Homo sapiens: one gene and its partner. The protein of the gene in region 1 interacts with the protein of each later gene in a pairwise test. Each region holds a gene or a part of one and is shown on either strand. Other genes may lie near its edges.

Region 1 (3,466 bases):
CTGGGAAGAGTGTGATCCTGCGCTGCCAAGGGACTTTCCAGGGCATGAGGTTCGCCCTCTTGCAGGAGGGAGCCCATGTTCCCTTACAGTTTCGGAGTGTCTCAGGGAACTCAGCTGACTTCCTTCTCCACACTGTTGGAGCAGAGGACTCTGGGAACTATAGCTGTATCTACTATGAGACAACCATGTCAAACAGGGGGTCATATCTCAGTATGCCCCTTATGATCTGGGTGACTGGTAAGGACCGACCGGACATGGGACTGGGATGGAGATCATTGGAGAAGGGGTTAGGGAGAGTAATTCCTCCTGGAAGGCTAGGCTAGGCCACGGAGGGGAACTACCGTGCCCAAGAGGAGAAAGATAGAGTGTTAATTTAAGCAGGAACTCATAAGTTTCTATAGTCACCACTTTACAACCTTGGTCTCTTTCTAGACACATTCCCTAAGCCATGGTTGTTTGCTGAGCCCAGTTCTGTGGTTCCCATGGGGCAGAATGTTACTCTCTGGTGCCGAGGGCCGGTCCATGGAGTAGGATACATTCTGCACAAAGAAGGAGAAGCCACTTCAATGCAGCTCTGGGGATCCACCAGTAATGACGGGGCATTCCCCATCACCAATATATCTGGTACTAGCATGGGGCGTTACAGCTGCTGCTACCACCCTGACTGGACCAGTTCTATCAAGATACAACCTAGCAACACCCTGGAACTCCTAGTCACAGGTAAGGGGAAGAGGCTGTCGAGTGGGCATGGAAGTGTAGAAAGGAGGGAATAGACTAGTTCATGGGAGATAGTTTTCAGAGAGCTCGAGGAGAGGCAACCAATTGCCTTTCCTCTTTATTGAGCAGAGACCCCAGGGGTGATGCACTGGAAAGTGACCTCTTCTCTTTGACCAGGAGTTCATTTCTTCCAGGCTTACTCCCCAAACCCAGCCTATTAGCCCAGCCTGGTCCCATGGTGGCCCCTGGCGAAAATATGACTCTTCAGTGTCAAGGGGAACTGCCAGACTCAACATTTGTCCTGTTGAAGGAGGGGGCTCAGGAGCCTTTAGAGCAACAGAGGCCAAGTGGGTACAGGGCTGACTTCTGGATGCCAGCAGTGAGAGGTGAAGACTCTGGGATCTATAGCTGTGTTTATTATTTGGACTCTACTCCCTTTGCAGCTTCAAATCACAGTGACTCCCTGGAGATCTGGGTGACTGGTAAGGTCCTGGAGACTTCAGTACAAGTCACGATTTTGTAGTTTTTAGCAGTAAGCAATAAGGGGGTAAAAGGCTAAGTTCAGGATCATTTCTTTTAACTCTGTGTCCTTGTTGGTTGCAGATAAGCCCCCTAAACCCTCTCTGTCAGCCTGGCCCAGCACCATGTTCAAGTTAGGGAAGGACATCACCCTTCAGTGCCGAGGACCCCTGCCAGGTGTTGAATTTGTCCTAGAACATGATGGAGAAGAAGCACCTCAGCAGTTTTCAGAGGATGGAGACTTTGTCATCAACAACGTAGAAGGAAAAGGCATTGGAAACTACAGCTGCAGCTACCGCCTCCAGGCCTACCCTGATATCTGGTCAGAGCCTAGTGATCCCCTGGAGCTGGTGGGGGCAGCAGGTAAGAGAATAATCTCTCCATGGTCCTGGTGTGACACACCTGGGATCCCAGGGACAGTCCCCATGGAGACATCCCAAATCAGGAGAATGGAGGAGCTTTGGAGCCAGGGACCTGAAGTGTGTCATCTTTCTCCTAAGGATGATGAGGAGGTGGGACCTTAAATATATTTGAAGATAGTGAGTGGGTTTCTTTTCAGGCCTCTTTTCCCCAAGGAAAGGAGGGCTGCTTCTGCTTCAGCATAAACTCTGCCACTGCCCACCCCCTCTGTAGTCTGAACAGATGGCTCCCACGTGAACCCTAAAGAAGGCCAGAGTGTGGGGCAATACCAGATCAAGGGGAACATACACACGCTAATCTCCATGGCCTCGGTTTCTCCTCTTTCATCACCACAGGGCCTGTTGCTCAGGAGTGCACTGTAGGGAACATTGTCCGAAGTAGCCTAATCGTGGTGGTTGTTGTAGCCTTGGGGGTAGTGCTAGCCATAGAGTGGAAGAAGTGGCCTCGACTGCGAACCAGGTAAATAAATGCCTCATTATGGCCCCCTTCTGTGAACCAGGTGGTGCTAGAAAAACAATCATACAAATGCTCCCCTAGTATCTGAGCCCCACCGTGCAATCTGTTTTCAGTTTCTGGGTCCTCCCTTACTCATGTCTTTTTCTTTACATAGAGGCTCAGAGACAGACGGAAGAGACCAGACCATTGCCCTTGAAGAGTGTAACCAAGAAGGAGAACCAGGCACCCCTGCCAATTCTCCTTCATCAACCTCTCAGAGAATCTCTGTGGAACTGCCCGTTCCAATATAATAATCTCCTCCTTTACAAGAGCTTTCCTCTCCTCTCTCTTGCTCTCAGAGACCTATAAATCCAACCAGTTACCCTGCAAGTCAGCCCCATCTGCTGTTCCTTGGTCTCTAATCACCTGAGCTGGGTAAAGGGGATTCTGGGAGTTGAGAGCTCTGCCAGGGTGAGATGTTTCCTGAAGAGAGGTTCCCCACCCCTGTAACTCCTCACTGTACTGATTTACTGGCGCATGAAATTCTATTAAAAATGCATTCTTCTGAATAAAAAGAGTATTCACTATTTAACTTCAAAAACTATGGCTGTGGTCTTCTATTGGTCTGTTTTCCACTAACAATTTAGAAATGATGTATTGGAGCTGATCTCGATGGCAGAATAAGAGAGTGCAGGGGTACGAGAAAAGAGAAAGTTGTTCAAGGATGGGCGTGGGGAGGGGGCTCCAAAATAGCTACTTCCCAATTTGGTTTGACACATAGTCACTGACCAGAGTATTCTTTTGCCCTTCCATGGGATAGATGAATGAATGAATGGCAACACTCTCTCCAAGTTGAGCCTGAGGAGGGAAAACACAGACATTACATGCATTTCATTGTGTTACGTTTGGGTCCATAGTACATCCACTTTCAAACAGTGGGATTGGCCCTCAGCAGCACTTTGAAACTGGAAAAGCGCGCTTTGTGACCCTTACCTAGCAATCACAGGGTGTAAATGAATTCACTCTTAAGTAAGAACAATTAATCAAATCTGATACTTTGTCCCTCTCTAAAGAGAGTTCCATTTTCCCAAAGGAATGTGCGTGTAATGGTGGGATCTCAAGAAGCCAGTAAGCAGATGAGGTGGATGGTTTGGAACAGGGGACCTGCCAGTGTCGCCTCCCAGGATTCCAAATGGGGAAATGGTGGGGCGGGGGGCTAGCTCCCATTCTCAGCCACTGATCTTTCCCCCTGGATTAGAAGGCCACTTGCCCCATGAGTGGGAATTCAGTACACATTAGGCCATTAGGCCGTTTGGAATGGGGTGGGTGGCTTACCTAGTTCCTCAAAGCTTGTTAAAGACCTCAGAAAAAGTGA
Region 2 (3,815 bases), on another chromosome or scaffold:
TGGCATGATTCCGGCCAGGTTTCTGGGAGACCTGTTGTCAGACCCAAAATAGAATAGACCCTGTTCTATTTTGCAGGGCTTCAGTTTCTTTTCTGGGCAGGGGTTGGATAGCAGACTGGAGATCTCTAAGGAATCAGCAGTTTGAAAACCTCAAAGGCCAAAAGCTCAGGAGCTTCTGGGAGATATAAGACTTTATCTGCCGGGCATGATGGCTCACGACTGTAATCCCAGCACTTTGGGAGGCTGAGACAGGCAGATCATGAGGTCAGGAGATCGAGACCATCTGGCTAACACGGTGAAACCCCGTCTCCACTAAAAATACAAAAAAAAATTAGCTGGGCATGATGGCGGGCACTTGTAGTCCCAGCTACTTGGGAGGCTGAGGCGGGAGAATGGCGTGAACCCGGGAGGCGGAGCTTGCAGTGAGCTGAGATCACACCACTGCATTCCAGCCTAGGGGACAGAGCAAGACTCCGTCTCAGGGAAAAAAAAAAAAAAAAAAGTGTGAACCTGGGAGGCGGAGCTTGCAGTGAGCCGAGATCACGCCACTGCACTCCAGCCTGGGCGACAGAACTAGACTCCGTCTCAAAAAAAAAAAAGACTTTATCTAAAAAATGAGAGGGCTTTGAGTCCTTGGAGAGCCTCCACTGGTCCTGAGTCATTTGTCATTTCTCAGTTTGAAGAACATGGGTGCTCTGGTAGCCTGCTTATATAGTTGTGGTCCCACTCCCCTCTACCCTCACTTCCAATTCAGAGCTGAGGTCCCTAGAAATGCAGCCACTTCTCTTGGCAGGAGGGTTTTTGACAGGCTGTTTTTTGTTTTTGTTTTTTTGGGACAGGGTCTTGCTCTGGCACCCAAGCTGGAACCCAGTGGCACAATCATACTAGCTCACTGCAGCCTCAACCTGCAGGGCTCAAGTGGTCCTCCTGCCTCAGCCTCCCAAGTCGCTGGGACCACAGCTAATTTTATATATTTTGTAGAGACGGAGCCTCGCTATGTTGCCCATGCTGGTCTTGAACTTCTGTTCTCAAGAGATCCTTCCACACAGGCCATTGTTAACCTGAACTTTGCCAGCTTGGAACCTCTGAGGACTCTGACTGCGTATGGACTGGAGATAGGCAGCTGCCACCCTCCCTGTTTCCACTTCTCTGTCAGCTTGGGGATGACATTGAAGCATTGGACTAGGAACAAATCCAGCCCCACCACCTTTGCTAGCTTTATGACTACTGGCAAATTGTCGAACCTCTGAGGCTTATTTTTCTCCTTTGTAAAATGCAATAAGCCTGCTTCCCAGAGTTGGTGTGAGGATCAGATGAAGTAATGGATGGAAAAGGGGCGAGGTGCGGTAGCTCACACCTGTAATCCCAGCACTTTGGGAGGCCGAGGTGGGCAGATCACTTGAGGTCAGGAGTTCAAGACCAGCCTGGCCAACATGGTGAAACCCTGTCTCTACCAAAAATACAAAAATATATATTAGCCGGGCATGGTGGTATGTGCCTGTAGTCCCAGCTACTCGGGAGGCTGAGGCAGGAGAATTGCTTGAACTCGGGAAGCAGAGGTTGAAGTGAGCCAAGATTGTGCTACTGCACTCCAGCCTGGGCGACAGAGTGAGGCCCTTCTCCAAAAAAGGATCTGGCATGCACAATAAGTTTCCATAAATATGTGTTAAATCAAGAGAAGTATCAGGTCTGAAGGGCCGCAGGGGATAGATCTTTTGGATTTAGTTCCCCTTAGCAGGCTTTCTTTGCGGGTGGAGGAGCTATGCACCTGCCTAAGCATCTGATTTCACTTCTGGCCAGGCCGCCAGTGAAGAGAAGGCCATGGTCTAATTAAAACTACCTAGCCCGGGGCCGGGCTCAGTGGCTCACGCCTGTAATCCCAGCACTTTGGGAAGCTGAGGTGGGCAGACCACAAGGTCAGGAGATCGAGACCATCCTGGCTAACATGGTGAAACCCCGTCTCTACTAAAAATAGAAAAAATTGGCCTGGCGTGGTGGTGGGCGCCTGTATTCCCAGCTACTCGGGAGGCTGAGGTAGGAGAATGGCGTGAACCGGGGAGGCAGAGCTTGCAGTGAGCCGAGATCGCACCACTGCACTCCAGCCTGGGCGACAGAGTGAGACTGCATCTCAAAAAACAAAAACAAAAACAAAAAAACCTTCCCAGCTGGACACAGTAGCTCATGCCTGTAATCCTAGCACTTTGGGAGGCTGAGGCGGGCAGATCACTTGAGGTCAGGGGTTCAAGACCAGCCTGGCCAACATGGTGAAACCCTGTCTCTACTAAAAATACAAAAATTAGCCAGGCGTGGTGGTGGGCACCTGTAATCTCAGCTACTGGGGAGGCTGAGGCCAGAGAATTGCTTGAACCAGGAGGCAGAGGTTGCAGTGAGCCAAGATCGTACCACTGCACTCCAGCCTGGGCTACGGAGGGAGACTCTGTCTCAAAACAACAACAACAAACCAAAAAAAACAACTACCCGGCCCTAGCACTGGCTCCACCATGGGGTGCAGAGGCAGAGTAGCCCCAGGGGCTGGCCCTGATGACTGTTCCTTTCCCCCCACAGGTATAGCCTTCACAGACCTCCCGGTGAGTACTACTATTGAGTCTTCCCCTCCTGGGTTTCTGGGGGCTGACTGGGATGGGGCACGGTGGTACCTGCAAGTGCAGGGTGTGGAGTCTGGTTCTTTCCCCAACCAGGGATGTGTGCCATGCTGTCAGCTTGAGGGTACCAGGAGGGGCACTTGCTGGCCTTCCTCTCTCTCCAGCAGTAAGGTCTGGTCTTCCTACGACTCTTAGCAGGTGACAGTAATTTGTGGCACTTCCAAAGGCAGCTGTGGGGCTGGGGCGGGTAGGGTGGTGGAATGAAGATAGCTCCATGGCTCAACTGGTCTAAACCAGCTGTGTGTCAGCTGGGGTGCAGAGTGTAGGGAATTGTTCCTGAACTGTGAGGGAACCTAGTCCTTGTACATACCCATCAGAGATCCCTGAGGAAAGTTAGTGCCCTAGGGGAACTCATCTGCTACTATCTAGGGCACCCCCAAGCCAGAGAGGTGAGCTTTGTGGGGTCTTCTCTTCTTAGAAAAGGATGGAGTTTTCTGGCCGGGTGCGGTGGCTCACACCTGTAATCCCAGCACTTTGGGAGGCCGAGGTGGGCAAATCACGAGGTCAGGAGATCAAGATCGTCCTGGCTAACAGGGTGAAACCCTGTCTCTACTAAAAATACAAAAAAAGTTAGCCGGGCCTGGTTGCAGGCGCCTGTAGTCCCAGCTCCTCGGGAGGCTGAGGCAGGAGAATGGCCTGAACCCGGGAGGCAGAGTTTGCAGTGAGCTGAGATCGCACCACTGCACTTCAGCCTGGGCGACAGAGCGAGCCTCCGTCTCAAAAAAAAAAAAAAAAAAAAAAAAAAGAAAAGGATGGAGTTTTCTGCTTGCTTAGTTCAAAAAAAAAAAAAAACAGAAAAGGATGGAGTTTTCTGCTTGCTTAGTTCAGGGCATATCCTCACCTCCAGCCATCCCGCACCTGTACTCCAGTCTCTATTATGAGTCATCACAGGCCTAATCACATGCAGGGCCTCCACCCAGGATGCTGGGAGCCTGGCCTGGCTCTGTGTGTTCTGGTTAGGTTCTGGAAGGAAGGAAGGTTTGCTGACTCTGGTGGCTGCTTTGGGATCCCAAACACCCCAGTGATGCCCCAGGAAATGCCTTTGTGATCTTATGGGCCTCTGAAGCCCAGACCATAGCACCCAGGGTCCTGTTAAAACCTCCAGTCCATGGCTCAGAATCCTTCCCTCTTACCTGGAAGCCCCAGAGAGGG

What was found.
Region 2: the proteins of IGSF1 (region 1) and RANBP10 interact in a two-hybrid assay, tested with the Homo sapiens proteins (one study listed by BioGRID and IntAct).

What each region holds. Positions count from the first base shown.
Region 1 is NC_000023.11:131,272,732-131,276,197, reverse strand, and holds the end of IGSF1 (immunoglobulin superfamily member 1 isoform 1 precursor), read left to right. Parts: coding exon 1-237; intron 238-432; coding exon 433-720; intron 721-911; coding exon 912-1,199; intron 1,200-1,320; coding exon 1,321-1,599; intron 1,600-1,991; coding exon 1,992-2,115; intron 2,116-2,266; coding exon 2,267-2,402; 3' UTR 2,403-2,692; downstream 2,693-3,466. UniProt on the Homo sapiens protein: Seems to be a coreceptor in inhibin signaling, but seems not to be a high-affinity inhibin receptor. Antagonizes activin A signaling in the presence or absence of inhibin B.
Region 2 is NC_000016.10:67,736,786-67,740,600, reverse strand, and holds part of RANBP10 (ran-binding protein 10), read left to right. Parts: intron 1-2,565; coding exon 2,566-2,588; intron 2,589-3,815. UniProt on the Homo sapiens protein: May act as an adapter protein to couple membrane receptors to intracellular signaling pathways.